Linked DNA regions of Homo sapiens. The protein of the gene in region 2 purifies or fractionates together with the protein of the main gene of each other region. This does not show direct contact. Each region holds a gene or a part of one and is shown on either strand. Other genes may lie near its edges. The genes, in order: RANBP10, RMND5A, RANBP9 and GID4.

What was found.
Region 1: the proteins of RMND5A (region 2) and RANBP10 purify together in Homo sapiens (affinity purification with mass spectrometry; 6 studies listed by BioGRID and IntAct, with this or other methods). This does not show direct contact.
Region 3: the proteins of RMND5A (region 2) and RANBP9 purify together in Homo sapiens (affinity purification with mass spectrometry; 11 studies listed by BioGRID and IntAct, with this or other methods). This does not show direct contact.
Region 4: the proteins of RMND5A (region 2) and GID4 purify together in Homo sapiens (affinity purification with mass spectrometry; 6 studies listed by BioGRID and IntAct, with this or other methods). This does not show direct contact.

What each region holds. Positions count from the first base shown.
Region 1 is NC_000016.10:67,722,540-67,726,577, forward strand, and holds the end of RANBP10 (ran-binding protein 10), read right to left. Parts: intron 4,020-4,038; coding exon 3,889-4,019; 3' UTR 531-3,888; downstream 1-530. UniProt on the Homo sapiens protein: May act as an adapter protein to couple membrane receptors to intracellular signaling pathways.
Region 2 is NC_000002.12:86,772,272-86,778,569, reverse strand, and holds the end of RMND5A (E3 ubiquitin-protein transferase RMND5A), read right to left. Parts: intron 5,223-6,298; coding exon 5,159-5,222; 3' UTR 529-5,158; downstream 1-528.
Region 3 is NC_000006.12:13,620,988-13,624,872, forward strand, and holds the end of RANBP9 (ran-binding protein 9), read right to left. Parts: intron 1,506-3,885; coding exon 1,375-1,505; 3' UTR 511-1,374; downstream 1-510. UniProt on the Homo sapiens protein: May act as scaffolding protein, and as adapter protein to couple membrane receptors to intracellular signaling pathways. Acts as a mediator of cell spreading and actin cytoskeleton rearrangement.
Region 4 is NC_000017.11:18,035,028-18,042,421, forward strand, and holds the start of GID4 (glucose-induced degradation protein 4 homolog), read left to right. Parts: upstream 1-4,380; 5' UTR 4,381-4,437; coding exon 4,438-4,875; intron 4,876-7,394. Other genes in the region: ATPAF2 (ATP synthase mitochondrial F1 complex assembly factor 2), read right to left, coding at 3,854-3,986.

The DNA.
Region 1 (4,038 bases), on a different chromosome or scaffold from region 2:
TTGAGACAGGGTCTCACTCTGTCACCCAGACCGGAGTGCAGTGGTATGATCTCAACTCACTGCAGCCTTGACCTCCTGGGCTCGAGTGATCCTCCCACCTCAGCCTCCTGAATAGCTGGGACCACAGGAATGCGCCCCCATGCCCAGCTAATTTTTGTATTTTTTGTAGAGATGGGGTTTTGCCATGTTGCCCAGGCTGTTCTCGAACTCCTGAGCTCAAGGGATCCACCTGCCTCAGCCTCCCAACGTGCTGAGATTATAGGCGTGAGCCACTGTGCCCAGGCTCTTTAGTTGAATTTGCTACTTTTTCCTTGTATAAGAAGAAAGCCGTTTCAAGAGAGAACTGAGGTTTAAGTACCTGTCCTCTTTGGGGTCTTACAAATACACAGTTTCAAAGGTCCTTGAAGAAGGCACCTGAGGGCCTGGGCACTTGAGAGGCTGGGAAGGGCCCAAATCCTTTAGGACAGGATGTGTCACAGAAGGGGTGCCAACCTCAGTAAGACTCAAAACAGAGACCAGACACACATGACTGCTCATGGATGTGTATTTTAATAAAAATAATTCTGTCAAAATACAACAGAGTTTTTTTTTTGTCTCTCAAGTACAATTTTAATAAGATGTTTTGTGTTAGAGTTCTCTCTCCATCCTCCCACACCCACAAGTTTCATGCTAATGCCAAGTATCAACTCTTGAGGACAAAGGCAAAACCAGTGTGCACAATGTGGAGGATGTCTGTTGCAGCTGTAGTTACTAATGCAGGAAAACCCAATGCAAAGAGGAAAATGCCTGAGGCAGCCAGAGGCCACAATCTGGCCACAGGTCTGGGTGCATGAGACTGGCAGTCTAGTAGGGCTCCGCTGCCTGGCTGCCACATGGGTGCATACCTGAGTTGTGAGCAACCAAAGGAACTTTCAGCTCTGACAATTCTCTGCCTCATCTTCTTTGTGCTTGCTTAAGGAGTGGGAAGGCGCTAGGTGGCCAGGCAGTCCCCACTTCTGTCTCGTGGTGTCCATTTTGATGGCCTGCACCCAGCCACAGACCCATGAGGATGGGGATGGGGGTTCTGGCTTGCTATGAGTGCCAGTTTTTGCTCTGGAAGGAGTGACCATTTGGTGCCGCAAGGGGAAAGTGAGTAGGGAAGGCTGCTCCCCAGGGCCGGACAAACCAAGAAAGCCAGGTCTTCCTCCTGCCTCCATGGGTCAGGTCCAGCCCTTCACCAGGGCTCCCCCAGGTGCCTTTCCCACTCTAGGCTCCTGGAAGCAGGCTGGTAGGACTGGATGTGCATAAGGGGCACCTCTGGCTGGCAGGCAGGCAGGCCTGGACTCTCAGCAAGAGAGTGGGCTCAAGCAGCTTGGTTTTGGCCCTCTCCACAGCTTGTGGGGCAAAGGCTTATGTCCCAAAGGTGAGCTGCCCAACTGGGACAGAGAGCCCCTCTGGAGAGGAACAGAGTAAACAACTTGGACTCAGCTGAAACAGTGAGATAAGGCACAGAAAATGGGGAGGTGGCCATGGGTACCAAGTGCGAGCCAGGCAGACACCCAACCCCATGCAGCACACAGCTGTCCCGAGCCCTCCTGGGCCCTCTCAGCCACTCCACAACCTAAGCTCAGGCACCCGTCCTCATCCCTGACACACCCCTGAAGGTAGCAGCTTCTCAGATACTGCTGGAGGGCACATCAGCCTGACCCCTCATGGGGTTTATCTGCCATTCGGTTTCAGGACTAAATAGTGTTGCCCAACCCACAGGGATAAGGGATAGTCCCGGCTCTGCTACTAATTTGCTATGTGACTTTAGCCAAGTCACTTAATCTCCTGGGCCTGTTTCCTTATTTGTAGCAAGAGAGGAATGGGGGAGATGTTCACTGAACCCCATTCCAGCTGCAAAAGCCTGTGGTTTTAATCCAATCCTGCTAGGCTATGATCATTTAAACAGCCTGATGTCTCCAACTTCTGGGTTTGGGAGCTAGGTAGCCCCAGGCTGTCACAAGAGATGAATTTCCTTTACAGACAGGACGCCTCCTAACAGGCCATGGTCTATGGGTCTGCCAGCCCCAAGGACCAAGAAAAAGCAGCAGCTATAGGATCATTTCCCAAGGCAGAATTCTGACAGCACAGGGCCCAGGGCCCTGGCCCCATCACCAGCAGTTGGTCCAATTCAAACATTTTTCTTGTTGCCCAGCTGTGGGCCCAGTGAGGCCTGGTGAGCAATGGGTATCTCAGGCCACACCAACCATTCCCATGTCCACCAATATGGAGCAGGAGCTTGCAAAGCCCAGATTCAGGCAGGGACTGAAAGTTCAACTTCCGGCCTTGCCATGGCTGACCCTACTCTTTGCATGGGCGGCTTGTGCACTCCCCTCACAATGTGAAGCACATATGGAAATTCCAGCCGTCCTGGTGCTCCTCTGTGTAGACTTCCTCCCTTTCCTCCTCCAGGGCAGCCAGTCCTCTCCACAGGTGGGCCACCCCAAGTCCTGGCAACCATCTCAGTCTTTCCTTTCCTGATTCCCCAATGGTAGCGGGACCACTTTTACTCTGCCAGCTGTAAGGATCTATCTGAAACAGCTGGTGGGACATGTGTAAAGCTGATAGAGTCCCATTCTCTGGCCAGCAAATACTCCCAATAGTCTTTCCTAAGAGTGGCTAGGGCCCAGCTGCAGGGAGCTGTCTGGCACAGTGGCAGTGAAGTCTGGCCTAGGGGACCAAGGATTCCATCCACTCCCTGGAGTAGCAGCCCAAGAACCTGCCTCCACAAGGTACTGGTTTCTCAACAGAAAGCATCCATTCTCTCAGAGCTGTGCAGAGATGGTGAAGATCTAGGCAGGAAGAAAGCAGCCCCTGTACTCAAGGGCCTCTGTCCTGGGAATGGAGTCTTCTTTCCAGCAGCCTGACACACAGAAGCTCTCAGGACGAAGGCAGGTAGTTTCCAGGCAATCAATTTAGAGTAAATGTATTATTTGGCCATCTTAACAACAAGGGAAGATAGGGTATTGAAAAGGGAGGAAAGGGGAGCAAGGCAGGCAGTGGGAGGTGGGGTAGAGTGGTAGATAGTGTGCTGGCCAAGGACCCTCTACCTCTGCTGTGTGGCCCTGGGCCAAGTTATCACTTCTCTGGACCCTTGGCCCTGTAGTTCTCTGCTCTGTCCAGCTCTCAGGGGCCTAGGGATCTACAGTTCTTGGGATGCTATAAACCAATGTAACCATGCCCACTAAGTGGCCCACCAAACCCTATTTGGGTTTCCTAGGCTGCAGCTCGGCCTGTGACTCAAAAAAGGGGGAGCAAAAAATAAATCACTTGGCTGAGGTGACAGAGATTCTTCTTTTTTAATGAGTTGGACTCAAAGAAAACATGGTGCCTGGACAGCCTCACCCAAGAGGTGCTGGACCACTAATGCTACGATAAATACTGTCTTTTTTTTTAATATATATATTTTTATATATATATATATAATCTCATTTGTTTTTTACTTATGAAAATAATAAGCTATCACCAACTTGGATAGGCTTCATCACTAAATTAGCAGAAACCAGCTCAGCACAAACTCTCCAGAGATAAATACTGGTGGCTCAGTCAGGAGAAAAAAATTTAAAAACCCCAACCCCTCCTCAAAACAAAACCCCCCTTTCAAAATAGAAGGCGCTACATGAGAGTAACCAGCCAATACTGTGTTACAGGCCGCTGCACGTGAAGGGGAGAGAGAGAGAGACTGAGCGGGGTGGTGGGCAGAGAAAGGAAGGAAGGAAGGAAAGGGAGAGGGGGAAAGGCCAGGCAGGAGGAGTGGACTCTGTCTATGGTTTCCCAGTCCCTGCACCAGTTGCCTATGGAGGGCAGGGCAGCTCCAGCCCTGGGGCCAGTGGAGGGCCAGCCAGAGCCAGCCAGCACAGTCAGCTAGTGCAAGTAGTCATCAACTCTGGCAAAGGAGCAAGAACCCAGGCCTGCTCGGGCCATGAGCCGGAGACACTCAGATGCCTGGCCCAGGGCGAGCATCAGAGGGGGCTGCTTTGGCAGGTTCTGGGACTCTGTGGAGGAAAGACAAGG
Region 2 (6,298 bases):
CTCAGAAACTCGGGACTCAGCCAGGTGCAGTGGCTCACGCCTGTAATCCCAGCACTTTGGGAGGCTGAGGTGGGCAGATCACTTGAGGGTCAGGAGTTCGAGACCAGCCTGGCCAACATGGTGAAACACTGTCTACTAAAAATAAAAAAAAATTAGCTGGGCATGGTGGCACATGCCTGTAATCCCAGCTACCCGGGAGGCTGAGGCACGAGAATCGCTTGGACCCAGGAGGTGGAGGTTGCAGTGAGCCGAGATTGGGCTACTGCACTCCAGCCCAGGCAACAGAGTGAGAGTCTGTCTCAAAACAACAACAAAAAACAACTCGGGACACTGCTCAGTCACCTTCTCTTCTCACTGTTGGTGGCACAGAAACACAGTAAGATGGGGACAGATATTTTCTTAAATTCTTGACATGCAGACCCTTAGCAAATACAGACAGCAATTTTCTCTTCTCACAGTCAGCACCTCCCTACTCCCTCCCTCATACCTTTGTCACCTGGCACATTTATACAGACTGGTTCCACAAAACACTTTTTAAATGTGCATTTCTTTAATTTTTAAAAATATACACAGGAAAAGCCATGTGTTTTACATAGGAATACACACATTAACAAAGCATTTCTTATAGTTTTCCAAAACTCTATTATATCAGTCCGAAATTTATAAATTAAATATATCAGAATTCTTAAAGTTAAAATGAATTCCCTGAAACTACTGGATATGCTACTTTTTCCAAAATCAAATGAACAGAGGATATGGATGTGGTTTGTGTTAAATAAGGTTTATTGTTAGCTTTATTGCCTATAGTCTATAAGATGCAACTTTACTGTGCCTTTGCAAACAGGATACATTTCTTAAAAAATTGATCAAAATTTTCCATACATATAGCTCTATATGATAGATTACAGTGCAACACTATTCTCGTTACATAATTATAGAAATACTATAGAACCCAAGAGCACGGGGTAAGCAAAATAAATACAATCCTGAGCCATCTGAACAAGATGATTTGATGAATCCTTTAGTGTAAGTTTAGAAAACACAGAGAAGGAAAAAAATACATGCATACTGCAGTCATGAGCAAAATACATCAAACACCTGTTCCTTGCTAGGTGCAGGTGGGGGCAATGGTGAACTTCAGACACATGCACACTCACTCACACTCCCATTTTCTTCTGCTTCCCTCCCAGCCCCAACACATTCATTCCCGCCCCTTCCCAAAAAAAAGATCAGGCACTAAATCCTAGTGAACCCCACAACTGCCTTGCTGGAGAAGGTTAAGTGACTGCTAAAGTAAGAGTGTATGTAGGTCCTCACCCATAACATGAAACAAAGCATGTGCTGTAAGCCAATTCCAGCTGCTTTTGCCTCTTTGGAAGTAAATGAAGCATATGCCCACTACAGCTTGAAACTGCAGTGGAAATGTCTTGAAAACAAAATTTTGTTTCTCTTGCTATGTCTTGAAGTAAAATCAACAGTGGAAAATTCATCCTAAAACTGCCTCATCTGCTATTAAAATACATTTGTCATTCTATTTTTGGTATCTATTCAATTATAGTTCATTAAGAACGGTTCATGAAGCTTGTACCTGCTTATGGTAAACATCAGTGTACCACACAAAACCTGCCACACCTAGACAGGCTTATGAAACACCAAATCTTCTATGTGTTCCTTGCTAACATTCCCTCAAGACCACAGCATTCTAGTGTTACCAGAGATAAAGTACGTATAGTTAAGTGATGAAAGAAAGGTATTTGGTTTGTGTCGTCACCTTATACATCCTAGTGATGAAACTAACCAAACTATGCCTCCATGCCTTCCCTGAAAATAACCTGAGTCGGCTGACGAAACAGACTGAGCAGCGTGGCTCTCAGTCCACTTTATCAGAGGTTGAGCTGGAAAACCAGAGGGCTAATGTAGTCTACCAGCAGCTTGTGCGGATAACCAAGAGTTCTTGGCTGTTGCAGTATCCACTGTCCCAAAGGCTAAGCCACTGAGGTGGAAATCAATCGCAGCATAAAGAAGACTGAACTTAAGCTGCATAACCTGCGAGACTACCTGGAGAGGACAAAAGAGGATCAGGATCCTCATTTCCCACAAAATGTGGTGTGGGTTTTAGTGTCTCTATGCATTAGCTGCTACAGAGAAGTTAACATTTACTTCATAGCTTTCTTATTTTCAATTAAATGCTCACACTCAAAAAATACACACCCTATGAATATGAGGTGGCTCTTTTCTTCAAATTTTTTAAAATAAAGAGGCACCAATACCCGTTCATTTATGTATTAGAAGTCTCGTATAATCACCAATAAAACAGAAATAGCATCTGTGATCACACAACGGAGAAAAAAGATCAAGAGACAACCTTAGCCACTGTAAAACTGTACTTGAACACTCAGATGCTCTGGCTAAGTCAGAATCTAAAGATTTGCTAATAAGGTTTTATTGGTTTAGCATAGTCCCATGGCCTTTGTCTATAACTGATATGTGGAAACGGTTCCCAAGGAAATTTAAGAAACCATTCTGAAATTCTGCCTTTGATGTACATTATAATTAAATGTGACTGTTATAAACGTTGCCTCTATCATATTATCTTTTGTAAAGTGGAGGCAAAGAGAGACAAAAAGCATCCTCCTGGACTGCTGACATGCAGAAAGCATCAGCGATGATAGGGTTGTGACAGCATTTATGGAGTTTCTAGGGCAGGGGGGACAGAATGCTGTATCTCAGCATCTTTGGTTAAGGTCTGGCCTCTTTAAATCCACCTCTCCCTCACATTTAGTCTCTCATGAATTTTAAGTCCATGCACTTGAAGACGGTCACAAGATATAATTTCCATATAATATGTCAGATTCATAAGAGTTTCAGATTTTTGGTCCTCACCCTGCCCAGTGGGAGTACACGGGCCTTACACAGAAAGCTGCAGAGTCCAATGCTTCAGTTAAAGCATGTTCTTTTCAAAGTTTTCTTGAGCTGCACAAAAAACCGTCAACAGTTTTTTGGCTCCCAGCACTGGGAGAGGGATAAAGCTGAGCTCTGGCTTTTGTCCTTTAAAGTGGCCCAAGCCGACTGTATGAAGAGTCTGGTCATCAAACACATTTACCACCAGCCTTCAGAGTACATCTGTCTCATTCAAACCTTACAGGAAGCCTAAACGTTGTGTAGGTGTTTGGGTGGAAAGATAAGAATAAGCTAAACTTGGCCTAAGGAGAAAAAGGGTAAAAAAAAAAAAAAAAAAAAAGAAAGAAAGAAAAATACAACACTCTAGGTTTTAATTCAAAGGAAAAATATATATATAATAAACTGGTTTACACCCTTGGTCAGACTGTTGCCTGGAATTCTCTACCTTCTCTTTCACAGTCCAAAGAGTTTGTCTCTGTTCTCTTCCTTCACTGCTTTAGCAAAGAGAGGGGGAACTTCAAAGAGGATTCCAACAGTGAAGCAGAATCATGGGGCAAAAGTCGCTATGGGGCCAGACTGAGGTTGGACCACACAAGCACTCCAAGCTGGGCCAATCCCAACCGCTGGTGAAGCCGCACAGCACGGAGTAGCCATCCACATAGGCCTGGCCACATGGTACTCAAGCAGAGGTTTTCCACAGTACTCTTTCTCCTCACAAACAAACCCCAGCTCTCCCAGGTAAACATTTTAGAAAAAACATCCAGGCTGGTGTACTACTGTAAAACGCTGCCAGTTTCTAATTAACTTAGCACCAAATCTGTGATTCCCCCTCCCTCAAACCAAGTCCATCTGTAGTTTAAAATGTGAAGTGCCACATTTCTCTTTGCTTCTGTGTTTTCATTTTCTTTGAAAGTATTCCTATTGATGTTCACTCCATGTCAGAAGAAATAAAGTTGCAAAATATTTGGTGATTTCCGTGTAACGTTCTTCTTATACTGAAGTAACTTCATGGGTTTCGGTCAGAATTATGTCCACAGAAGTCTTTTCCATGTAGTTCGTCATACAGAAAGACTCTTACACATGGCTATTTTTGGACAGTGCATAAATGAAGATACCTCACAAGAGAAAAGATCATTATCTGTATCCATCAGAATAATATACAGATTCACAGTCAATGAGATGATACGCTTTGCAGAAGAGAGGCATCAAACATTATACTATTCAAACACAAAAACAGCAATAAACGTTCTGCACTACAGAAAATTTGCTAGCTTCTAACTTTAAGGATTTAAAGTGATGGGTCTGGTAACTGCATTTTAGAACTGGAACATGCTGCTTTCCTTCCAGATACACAATGTTTGATGCTGGTGCACATATACAATACACACATGCACAACACTGTGTCTGCAATGATATAATAGGGCTACCAAGACCAAGAGAGTAAATATCAACTTAAGAACACTTCTAACTTTAGAATTTCATTTTATTAAACATACTTTTAAAACAAGCACCTCTTGGCAATAAAAGCAAAAACAAAAAACAAACAAACAAAAACCCAACCAAACAATAGTACTCCTTCCACTCTATGCTAACGGAAGACTTCTCACACCAGCCAGTTAAACAATGAAATTCTTAAACACGCAGCCTGCTGGGGCTGCATGCAGAGCTAAAATGCAGGTGTGCTGACTTCTTGGAGCTGGAGCAGAGGAAAACATCAAAAAGCATATCTGGAATCTATCACAGCTTTCTTTCTTAAGCAAATAAAAATGCAAATTAGTTTCATAACCACAATTCAATTTATCAAACTTTTTCTGAAGAATTTTCATTTAATTATGTATACATAACAGGAAATAAAACTTTTTCACAAACACTCTCAAGGCTTACGATTATCAAGAAAATGACAAAAGTAAAAGCAGGAGGAATATTAAACACATGGCGGGGAGGTCAATTTCCGTTTCTGCTCTTAAAAAGTAAAAAAATCACCATATAATTAAGTACAAAAACCTGCATTGAATGACAACTGCTGGTGTATTTACTTGATCAGAAATGAAGACCAAGAATATAATAAAGCCCTATGATAATATTCACCGGGAGCACTCCCCTCAGTGTGTGTACACTAACAGGTTGGCAAAGTTTCTGGAGCATTAGCTTATAGAAACACAGGAGTCCTTGGTTAGCTGCATTATATGGAACGTTCTCTTCTGAAATGCACCCACGATTCAGTTTCACTTACAAATTGCAAACTAAAGTTATCTCTTCAGAAAAATATCTGTTTGGCATCTCCTGGACTTTGTTCCATTGGACAGTAGGGACATTTTAATCTAAAGACAAAGAAGAAAACACTGAGTGAAGGAGCAGGCTCAGTACTGTGTATTCAATTTTTATCTAGTTATAGAGTATCTTTAACAATTATACACACATATAAGAACACACAAAAACAAGTCTGTTTGTATTTTGCTTTGAGGATGAACTATGCTTTCCCTTAATATAACTGCCAAGATTTGAAGGGTCACAAATACATACCACCCATGCCAGATCCTAAATTGTTTCTTAAACAAAACAAAGGTAACTTTTCTGGAAATTGTTTTTGGGGTTTCGAAAATAAATTCAATTTCTCTTTCCCAAAGGTTTAGGTTGCAACAGTCTTTAAATGAATTTCAAATGTACTGGTCACACAATCCATTCAAGGGCAGCAAATCTGATGGCAGCTACAAGCCCACACCAAGAACGGCCCACATGCCTCACAGTGACACATGAAACCAGTACAGCCTGAACTAAGATCAACAATTTTGGCCAGGCAAGGTGGCTCACACCTGGGAGGCTGAGGTGGGTGGATGCTTGAGCTCAGGAGTTTGAGAACAGCCTGAGCGACATGGCGAAACCCTGTCTCTACTAAAAATACAAAAATCAGCCAAGTGTGGTGGTGTGCGTCTGTAATTCCAGCTACTCAGGAAGCTGAGGCATGAAAATTGCTTGAACCCAGGAGGCAGAGGTTGCAGTGAGCTGAGACAGCACCACTGCACTCCAGCCTGAATGATGGAGTGAGACTCAATCGCAAAAAAAAAAAAAGCTGAGCTCACTAACTAAAATAAATTACAAATGCATATATCCTTTGAACCAGCAATTTCAGTTCTAGGAATTTATGTATCAGGTATAGATAATTCACTTAGCACTATGTTTTTTTGTTTTGTTTTGTTTTTTGTTTTTGTTTTTTGAGATGGAGTCTTGCTCTGTCGCCCAGGCTGGAGTGCAGTGGCACAATCTCGGCTCCCTGCAAGCTCTGCCTCTCGGGTTCACGCCCTTCTCCTGCCTCAGCCTCCTGAGTAACTGGGACTACAGGTGTCCGCCACCACACCCGGCTAATTTTTTGTTTTTGTATTTTTAGTAGAGATGGGAT
Region 3 (3,885 bases), on a different chromosome or scaffold from region 2:
TAGAGGAAAAAGTGGTTTAAGAAGGAATTGTTTTCTTTTTAATATATTTAACTGAATTCAAGCCATACCCACATCAGCAACAGCACCTCTTCTACTCTCCCCGGGTTAGAGGGGTGGCAAAAATGGCACGGACTAAAAGGAGAAATGGATATTCCAGCAAAGTCTCTAACTGCAGCCTGTAGACAATTTGCTATTAAAGATTCAGTGCACAAAATATAGCTAACAGCTTTTAAATTTTTACTTTTAACCAGTCTGGGGATTTGCTTGCCTGGTGAGTCTCATATGCCATATTATGAATATGAAAATAATGAAGTTAATTTCCTGTTGCCTTTCTGTGTCAGCCACAATATCAGGTCTAACCCTAATCCAGGGATGCCAGTAAACTGAAGGCAATTTTAGGTTGTAGAACTCAGATTAATTGTAGAAACCATTAATTTTAATTGCTCTAATTTTCATAGTAATCATAAAAAGTATGCAAGTACCTAATATATAAACTCAATTGACACTGTATCTGTAGAAGTAAATTTTTAATGGCTGGTTAATTATATCACTACATTTTATTGCAATATAGTACTCATTTAAGCACTTAAAAATGGAAGGTGTACAAAGATTAAATTAAGACACGGTAAATTGACTAAATATTTGGTTTTTATATAAATAAAGGTCATAACCACACCGTTGACATGTAATACTGTTATAATACAACAGTTAAACTTGTGAGTCTACAACAGAAGTCATCTGTAGTTAAACAGGAAACAAAGTTGAAAAAGACCATGTTAAAACAAAACTACTGGGACTAACAGGTCGGGATTGTAAGTAGCAACAAACATATTCACTCAGCTCCTGAGTATTTCAAGTTTTACAGTACACATTAAAAATGATTTCTTCCATCAACACTATAAATTCAAACTGTCGGATGTTTATGCATTTTGCAAGTTACACTGATTGAATGCTTATATGGGAGTGGGGGTCGGAACATCTCCCAATTTGAAGTTTACATCACCCACATGCTAACACAAACACAACTTGTTCCATTTCCTTCCCCTCTCTCCCCCCTCCCCCACAAAGAAGGCAGGATTTTTGGTTTCTTTTAGGTAATTGTTTTAAAGGATTTGTGATGATCAATTTGAACGTCTGAAATTCAGTAATATTTAACTCTTAGACAACTAAGAGGTTAAAGATGGAAAATAATTTCTCCTAACACTAAGTTAGAAAATCATTTGCATCATGCTGTAAACTAGGAAGCAATGTAAAGCGACAAAAACCTGTCCCCAGTACATAATTTAAAAAATCTAAATTTCAAATCAGCAGAGCTGGTCTACTTCCATGTTGACTATATGCCACAATATAAGTGTGAGCTCTTGAAATGCATAGCTAATGTAGGTAGTCTTCCACTGTGGCAAATGCGCAGGATCCAATTCCTGATCGAGCCATCAGTCCTAGACATTGTGTGGCCTGTCCCATTGCTAGGGCAAGTGGAGGTTGCTTTGGCAGATTGTGGGTTTCTGAGGAAAAATAATTTAAAAATGAGAACAGCAATTAGCAAGACATTTTAAAAAACATTTCAATCAGGAGAATACTGCAATGACTTTAAAAACTACCACTCCCATACCACTCTGAAATATCAGCAAATGAAGGTTTCTAAGCAAAAGACAGATGCCGCCTTGGACATACTATTCTGACAAGGTAGTGTGGGTATTGTGTATTCAACTATAAGATAAACTCTGGCAGAATCAGACTTTTAAAGTATCAGATACTAAAATACTTCCATATTAACTATGATGGGAAAGGTACAATTTTTTATCTGATATTTGGAGTGGAGAGTAAGGAATTATTTCCCTTCTGGTTGATCAAAGTCAGTTGATACTAACTAAAACTAAAAAAGGCACCAGGTTTTCATTACAAGTTTCCACTGATGGGTTCTTCCACCTCTGTGGATAGGACCAAACAGGCTGCCTAGCCATCTCCAAGGCATATATAGGTAATGTTATTTGGGCTGGTGGGGAGTAAGTGGTGGTGGTGACAGTGAGAGAACATACAGCAGAGCCACCCCACAGTTTTGGAGGTGCTAATTTACAGTGGACAGTTCAGACATTTAAAAAAATGCCAATAAATTTTCAGGGTCCTGCATATCATAAGTTTCTTTGTCAGACATTTGTAGTACAAATGCAATAATTAACAAAATTTGTTCCTTGCCAGAGATGGAAAAAAATGAACTAATGGTAAAAGTGGCCAGACTCAGAAGCTGGTAATTTCTCTTTATGAGAAGGCAATGTCCAAACTAATCAATAAAATTACTAATCAGTTCTTTATAGGCACAGTTGACAACAAAGGGCAAAAACAGTTGACACATGGCTAGGAAGGCTTCATATGGTTTAACTCCACTCTTGGTTCAGAGGATGCAATTTGATGGTGGAAGAAAGAAGAGGAAATTTCCAAAAGGGAAAAAGCACAATATCAGAAAGAAGCAAATTCAGGACTTAAAGGTAGAAGAGAAAACAAAAACAGGATTAAGAATAAACGTGTGCAAAAAAGGGCACATAGATTGATGAGAAAGTGTGGTGTCTTGAGGGTTCACAGGGAAGACCGTGCTCAAAGACAAACATCTACAGGGAATATTTTTTTAATTTTATTTTGGCCAAAGGAAGCATCTGGCGATGCATCTTTAACTTTTTTGGATGTATGAAATTTTCATAACACTATATAGATGGACCTACATAATATAGCATGGTATTTATAAACATATACATGCCCATCTATAGCAGTTTAATAATTGTGTCATTAATTTTACAGGAATCGCATACATTTATATTAATAAGATTAAGCACTATTTATGGCTGAATCTACATAATATAGCACAATATGTAAGAGTATATGTGTCTATAGATAATGGTGCTCAACAATTAAATTCCCTTGAAGAACTCAAGAAACTAAATTGTAAGAAAACTGGTCACTTTAAAGATTAGTATCATCTAATAATTAGGTCTTAATGATTACCTACAATATAACTTCAAAAAGACATTTATAGTAAACCATAATTTTCCTTACAATTCCAGCATTATTACTAAGTTACTTTTACCAACGGAGCTAAATGAATTTTGTAGAACCAATGAAAATATAACACATTAACCAAAGAAAATTCACATTTATATACAAATCCTAAATTCCGGAGAACTACAACACTGAGGACACTACTCCTATTCCCAAACTTCAGTATTGGTCCTTAACAAATTAATAAATTTTCTAAGGGCAAAGAAACAGACTGAGTCTTAAATATGAATGCTTTTCATTGCTTCCTTTACATTCTTGCTGTAAGAGTCCTGGCCCTCATTGCAAGTCTCCCTATCTAAACTACTCTTTAATCTACTTTTTGTGGCACTGCCCTCATCTTCCTAAACTAGTTTGAAATATGTGACTAAAAGTCCCTGAACCTTGCAGGGCCAAACAGCACAGCACAGACTTCTAAACTAGACTGGAGTCCCAATTACCTGGGAATTAGACTCTGAAGTCAAATGAAAACTCACTCTTTATATAAATTACCTTTGATGAGAACTGCCCAAAACTCAAACTTGTTTTATGTAAACAATCGACCCTATCACATTTATATAGAAATGCACAATATGTGCAGTTACACAATTCATATAAAAAGTACTTGTTCAGTATATAAATACTATAATCACAAACGCTACAGTGAGCTGCTCATAGGAATGGCAACCAAACGAACATCGAATTAGCGTTTCGCACTTGATGCTCACCCCTGGCTAAGCCTCGCCTTTTAAATTGCTTTTCTCTTCCTCACCCACCCTTTTTATTGGGTAAGGGCATGTAGTTGAATCCGGCTAATATAAATGCAAATAGAATGTGACATCAAGGCTTGATCCTGCC
Region 4 (7,394 bases), on a different chromosome or scaffold from region 2:
GGAGTTTGAGGTCAGCCTGAGCAAGACCCCATCTCTACAAAGCACTAAAAAGCTAGCCGGGCATGGTGGTGTGTGCCTGTAGCCCTAGCTACTTGGGAGGCTGAGGCAGGAGGATCACTTGAGCCCAGGAGTTTGAGGTTACAGTGAGCTGTGATCGTGCCACTACACTCCAGCCTGGGCAACAGAATGAGACCCAATCTCTTAAAAACAAAAAAAAACAAAAAAAACCCAAACTTTAAAACATTATGCTAAGTGAAAAAGTCAGTCAAAAAAGACCACATTCTATTTATATAAAATGTCCCAAACAGGGAAATCTATAAAAGAACAAAGGAAAGTAGTAGTTGCCAAGGGATGGAAGTAGTAAGGGTGGATGATAGCTAAAGGGTGCAGGTTTCTTTTAAGGGTGATAAAAATGTTCTAAAATTGATTGTGGCAATGGCTGTACAATTCTGTAAATATACTAAAAACTATTATATTTACACTTCAAGTAAATGAATTGTATAGCAAGTAAATATCTCAATAAAGCTGTTAAAAAAATCCTTCAGGCCAAATGTATAACATTTAGCAAACTTTTTCTGCAAAGAATCAGATAGTAAATATTCTAAGCTTTGCAAGCCATACAATATCTGTTCCAACTATTCAACTCTGCCACTGTAGTGAAAGTAGCCATAGATGATATGTAAATGAATGCATGTGGCTGTGTTCCAATAAAACTCTATTTACAAAAACAGGTGGCAGGCTGGACCCTGATCTACAGACTACATAATCTCCCTCAATCCACACCACTATTCTATGAGGATGACAAGGCAGCTAATGCCTCGGAGGTGATAGAGAAGCTAAACATCTTGTCTTGGTGACAGACAACTGGTAAATAGCAGAGACAAGACTTCTAGCCTTGACTTCATCAGGCAGTTGCATTCAGCCAGATACGCTGAATAGATAGGTTTCTCCAGAACACCTGCCACTCTGGGAGTCAATAGACCTCTGATAAGCTGGTGCAGAACTAAACTGCCACAACAACCTCATATAGGTCTTCTTGTTGCAATATCTCCTTCTCCAACACCTCAGTGACCCTTTCGTAAACTCCTCCTCTCCTTCTGATAACCTTCAATGGCATGGCCATTCCTAAGTGGCCAAGTTCAATCAGCTTGCTGACTGAAGTGTTCATTGAGAAGAACCCACTGCGGTTTAATCTTCTACTACTTCAAATACGCACAAATATCTCACAACTGGTAAGGTCTTTAGAGAGAACACGTGGGGGTCGGGGGCCGGGCGCGGTGGCTCATGCCTGTAATCCCAGCACTCTGGAAGGCTGAGGAGGGTGGATCATGAGGTCAGGAGATCGAGACCATCCAGACTAACATGGTGAAACTCCGTCTCTACTGACAATACAAAAAAATTAGCCAGGTGTGGTGGTGGGCACCTGTAGTCCCAGCTACTCGGGACGCTGAGGCAGGAGAATGGCGTGAACCCGGGAGGCGGAGCTTACAGTGAGCCAAGATTGCGCCACTGCACTCCAGCCTGGGTGACAGTGCAAGACTCTGTCTCAAAAAAAAAAAAAAGCATGCATGGGCCTGATTTATGCACCTCCCTTCTCATTCATTCATTCCTATTTTCTTTCACATTTGACTACCTACCATGTGCCAGGTACTTCCAAGAGCCTAACTAGTAAGTTTAGGCTTTTTAAAAAGGAAAAGAAGGCAGTAGATCAAGTGCCACCATTATGTAAAGTGAGCATCCACAAATCTAAATTAACCCTTTGTGGTCAGGCATGGTGGCTCACGCCTGTAATCCCAGCATTTGGGAGGCTGAGGCGGGAGGATCACCTGAGGTCAGGAGTTCATGACCAGTGTGGCCAACATGGTGAAACCCCATCTCTACTAAAAATACAAAATTAGCCACGTGTGGTGGCGGACACCTGTAATCCCAGCTACTTGGGAGGCTGAGGCAGGAGAATTGCTTGAATCTGGGAGGTAGAGGTTGCAGTGAGCCAAGATCACACCATTGCATGCCAGCCTGGGTGACAAGTGTAAAACTCCATCTCAAAATAAATAAATAAATACGTAAATAAATAAATTAATTAACCCTTTGCTTTTTGCCAACTTGGTGAACTCCTGAATGTGTCCCCTTTGCTATGCCTCCCTGGGATGCCCTTCCTTTCTCTTCTTTACTGGCCCTTCATGGCCCATTTCCAGGCCCTTCCCCTGAGTCCTGCAGGTGAAACTTCAGCTCCCTGCTGCATCCAGCCCCCTTCCCCATTTCTATAAAGTTATAGAACTTGGCTGGGCGCGGTGGCTCACGCCTGTAATCCCAGCACTTTGGGAGGCCGAGGTGGGCGGGTCACAAAGTCAGGAGTTCGAGACCAGCCTAGTCAATATAAACCCCATCTCTACTAAAAATACAAAAATTAGCAGGGCATGGTGGCAGACGCCTGTAGTCCCACCTACTTGGGAGGCTGAGACCACAAAATCGCTTGAATCTGGGAGGCGGAGGTTGCAGTGAGCCGAGATGGTGCCACTGCACTCCAGCCTCTGTGACAGAGGAGACTCCGTCTCAAAAAAACACAAAAAAACAGAAGAAGAAGAAAAAAAAAGAACTTGACAGCCAGAAAGATCCTCAAAGGCAACCTAGTACTTCAACGCATGGAGAAAAATGAGGAAGTAGTTGCATGCCCAAGATCACACAGACCTCAGAGGTTCAGCCAGCATCAGATCCTAGATTTGCACTCCTGCCACAATGCCAAACTGCCTGTGAAGTTCTGGATTTTCTAAAACAGGCAGTGTCAGGGAAAAGTCCCTCATACCTTGCTGTCACCCTGGACACGTTCTAGATACCCAACACTCTCCCACCTTTTTGCTGAACTCCTACTCATCTATCATGGCTCAGCTTAAACAAACGCCCTTTCACCCAAGACCCATTCTAAACCCTGAACATCCCCAAGATGGGAGTAAGCGATTCTCTGTGTTCTCACAGTTTCTTTGTATGTCCCTTATCAGGATATTATAAACCACAATTTAATCAGAATATTATAACCTTTTGCAATGAACAGTGAACATCATTCAGGTGGGCCTTTTTCTTCTTTAATTGAGCTTCTCTACCAATACATACAGGTGGGTCTTAAAGACAACCGTGCCTCCTGCCTCCAGCACAATAAAACTAATTGAATGGTGGGAGGGTGTTACTGCTCTTCATTCACTGAAATGAGTCATTCTCACTCTTACCCTGACACCACTCACCATCAGCAATGAAAGAGCCACTACTTCTAAGCTTCATCAGAGTTGGAGGTGGAGGTGACTCCACAGTCAGAGGTGGAGGTGTCAATTTCTATTTAGGAGAGAAGGCTGCAGATGGCAGAGGTTGTGGTAGGAGGGAAAGTCAGGAAACCTGCAGCAGAAGTGCCCGGGATGGAGGAATGAAGGCCCAGGTTCTAGGTCCCTTCTGGGCAGGTCTTGTGTTGGGCAGTGGAGACACGGAAAACAGTCAGACAGACACCACAAACCTCTGAGAGAGTCTGCCTGTAACCCAGACGAAGTCCTGATTCAGAGCCCAAACTTCCCCTTTTGAAAACAAAGATGACACCTGCTTTCCTTATTAAAGGGAGGGCAGCCATAAGCTTTGAGAAAACCTGCACAGGCCAAATATCAATTACTGTATCGTGCGTGACTCGCTGTTCCCTCTCGGGTCGTCTGCCCTTGTCTGGGCTTCACTTTCTCATCTGTAAAAAGACCTGACTGGCCTGCATAACCTCATGAGCCTGAACCCTGCCTCAGTTACTTCGCTTTGCACAGCCGAAGCCCGAAGCCCACCTTACCCCAGCTCGGCCCCAACCCAAAAGAACATGTCATGGTCTTACCTGTCGGCGGGGCGTAAGCCCGGGCTGGAGACGGGATGGTTGGCCCCGGACTCATAGAAGCGCTGGGGCCACCCGCCGGCCGATTCAGGAGACGGCGTCCCCCGTCCCGCAGCCGGAGGCAGCTCCTCCACATCGCGCCCGAGGGTCTGGGAAGATGCGAGACGCGAAACCTGGAGCAGGAAACACAGAGCGATGGGATCCCCAAAGCCGCACGGTCGGGCTGTACGGAAACCTCTCAACGCCTCCTCAGAGCCCTCAACCTCCCTTGGACGCCGCCATCTTCCGCATGACACCTACGGCGCGCCGTCGCCGCCGCGCGCCTCCTGCGCACACCCCCAGTCAATCAGCATCACAAACGCACCTCGCCCCGCCCCCTCCACGCCGCGCCTCGGCGAGGAGACTACAAGTCCCAGCGGGCCGCTCGCGCACCGCGCCACGTGTTTTCTCCTCCCGCCAATGGGCGGAAGCGCCGCCTGAGCCTGCTCCCGCCCCCCAGGCTCGCCTGAGCCAATCGGAAGGGGCGGGGTGTGTGTGTGTCTGTGTGTGTTTGTGTGTTGTGTGTCTGTGAGTGTCTGTGTGTGTGTATGTGTGCGCGAGGGCAAGTCGGGAGGGGGACCCAGCTCAGGACTGGGAGGCCCTGCTCGCAGGTCCCTGGGTCCCGGTGGCGGCCGGAGCGCTTGCTCCGCAGGCAGCGGGCGGGTGGTCGCCCCTCCCGCCCCCACCCCGCGCGTGCGCGCCCCGGCCTCTCCCTCCCCGCCACCCTCCTCGGCTCCCGCGCGGCGGCGGCGGTTCCTCTCCCACTCCCCCCAGCCCTGGCTCCGGGGGACCCCGCGATGCCGGTCCGCACCGAGTGTCCCCCGCCGGCCGGTGCCTCCGCTGCCTCCGCGGCCTCACTCATCCCGCCGCCGCCCATCAACACCCAGCAGCCCGGCGTGGCCACCAGCCTGCTCTACAGCGGCTCCAAGTTCCGCGGCCACCAGAAGAGCAAGGGGAACTCGTACGACGTAGAGGTGGTGCTGCAGGTGAGCGCCGGGCCGGGCCGGGGCCCGAGGGCCTCCTCGCGGCGCTCACGGGCCGTGCCCGCTTCGGCTCCTCGACCCCGCAGCCGCGGAACAGGCCCTCGCCGCCGGGGCCTCCTGCACCCGGCGCTTCCCACCCGGGACCTTCCCAGCCTGTGTCTCACACTCTCCGAGCCCCAGCCCTGACCTGCCCCTTCGGACCCAGAGCCCGTCGTGACCGGCTCCTGGCGGACCCCGAACACTCCCAGACTTGAAGCCCGTGACCGGCCCGTCTGGGATCCGGAAGCCCCTCATGACTCGGAGAAGGCCTGGGTCCTTCCTCCCCATGACCTGTCGTCCCTAGATCAGGGACTGCCACCAGCCCTTTTCAGACCCTGAAGAACTCTCCATTGGTTTCACCAGACTTGGGACCCTCCCCATGTCTGGGCCCACGTCAGATTCTCTCAGACCTGAGACATGTCCTCCTGCCCCTTCCTCAGTTCCAGGAATCCGCAGACCTTGGGGTCTTCCTCCTCCTGAGATCTCCTTAGGAGGGCTTCATCAGACCCCCAGACGGGGGAGCACCTAACCCGCAACTGATTGGTCAGGCCCTGGCCTCACCTCAAGACCAGGCACTCACTCCCTGAGTGCTGCTCACAGTCTGTTGGGATGTTGCCTCCTGGGTCCCCTGTTCCACTCACTGCTTCTGTCTCTTCATGGTCCAGGCACCCAGCTCCTTCCAGCTTCTCCACCCCCAGGCCTCCTGCCCCTGCTCTGGGACCATTTGCAGTCTTTTCCCAGTCTTCCTGGCCTCTATCCAGACTTCCCCACCCCATACCTTCGTCTTGCTCGATCCTGGTTCCAGGGGACCCTCTTTCCTGTTCTTAACTTTTCTCTACACAGGCACAGGGCTTCCTCTTAGTCTCTGGTACCCATGTACTGGGAAATCTAACTCACCCAATTTTAGTTCATGTCCAGTCGCCTCCCCCCATTTGACCTGGATTCCTGAATACCTGCTGCCAGTCCCTGATCAGCTTCGGAAGTACAGCTTCACTTGTCTGGGCCTTTCCCACACCTCACTCCTCTCAGGCTTGACACTTTTTGCCAGCTGAAATGGAGTGGCAGTGGTGAATACTCTTTTATCTCCCCTCCCCACAAAACTCTTCCTCCTCTATACCTACCCCTGCCTGACTAAGGACCCCTTTCCCCTTCCCTTTGCCCTTTTTTTCCTTAGTCTGACACCTCATCTGCCAGGCTGTTCCCAGAAGCCCCTCCAAACACCTGTCCCTCTGAAAGGCACTGTGTGCTGCCCCACTGCCTCCCCCCCGCCCCACCCCCCGGGGTGTGAGGGTGGAATGTACAGTATATTTATTCCTCAAGCTCTCCTTTTGGTCATTTAAAACAAATCTTAGTTTCACTTCTGAAGAGTAGGTCTCCCATCCAAAAGACAATGAGGGTGCCTTTTCTTTCTGCTAACTGCGGAGCACTCATCACTCTTTTATTCTCATACTGCTTTGTGGGAATAAATCATTTTCTCTGCTTACTTGAAACAGCATCGTCATGTTAATCATATCTTTGGGCTGTAAAGTTCTATCATGAGCCACGATAGTTATTATAATGGAAATACGATTGTGGCTGAAATATTTTTGTCTTCATAACTGTATGCCTAATGTAGTGATCCTCTTCTTAAAATGTGAGAGTCGAGTATGAAGGTACAGGGGTTTTTCGGTTTGTTTTGCACCTAGTCATAGAATTCTGGAGGTGAGATCCCTGGGTGGGTCACGTTTGGGATGATCTTGGATTTGTCCCTGTTGTTCAGTTTGATGGTTTCTGATGTAGTAGGGGACAATTGGCAAGATAGCCAGGCGTCAAAGGGGAGTCTGCTTTGGCTACTGCAGCAACTGCTGCTCCCTTCTGTCATTAGGGTATCACTTCTGAGCTCCTTTCAGAAGGAGAATCATGAACCAGGGGAAGCAGTGGTTGAGTTGGGGCAGGGCTGATAGGTCTCAGGCAGCCCAGAGCAGAAACCTGGTGGATGGCTGGGAGCCACTTGAGTAAGATGTCTGATGGTGGGGGTGGTGGTCATGCCAATGAATGCTGCCCTACATCTGGATTGGTGAGCTGCTTGGTCATCATCACGACTAGTCAGTGGCATGTGAATTGCCCCATCATCTGGTTTTTCAGCCAGGACTAGTTTGTCAGACACAGCCTTCTTAGACTTAAAATACTTCTGCCTTTTATAACTCAGCTTCTTTTTGTTTGTTTTGTTTTGTTTTCTTTCTTTCTTTTTGTATCTTTATTTAGATAGAATTCACTTATTTAAGGTGTACAATTCAATAGTTTTTAGTATATTCACAGTTGTTTAACCACCACCACAACCTAATTTTAGAATATTTTCATCACCCCAAAAGGAAACCTTGTATGTAACCCTTAGCCATAACCCCCACTCCAATCCTAGGCAACTGCTCATCTATTTTTGTTGTTGTTTGTCTATTCTGGACATTTCATATAATCACATAGTATTTGTCCTTTTGAGATTGGCT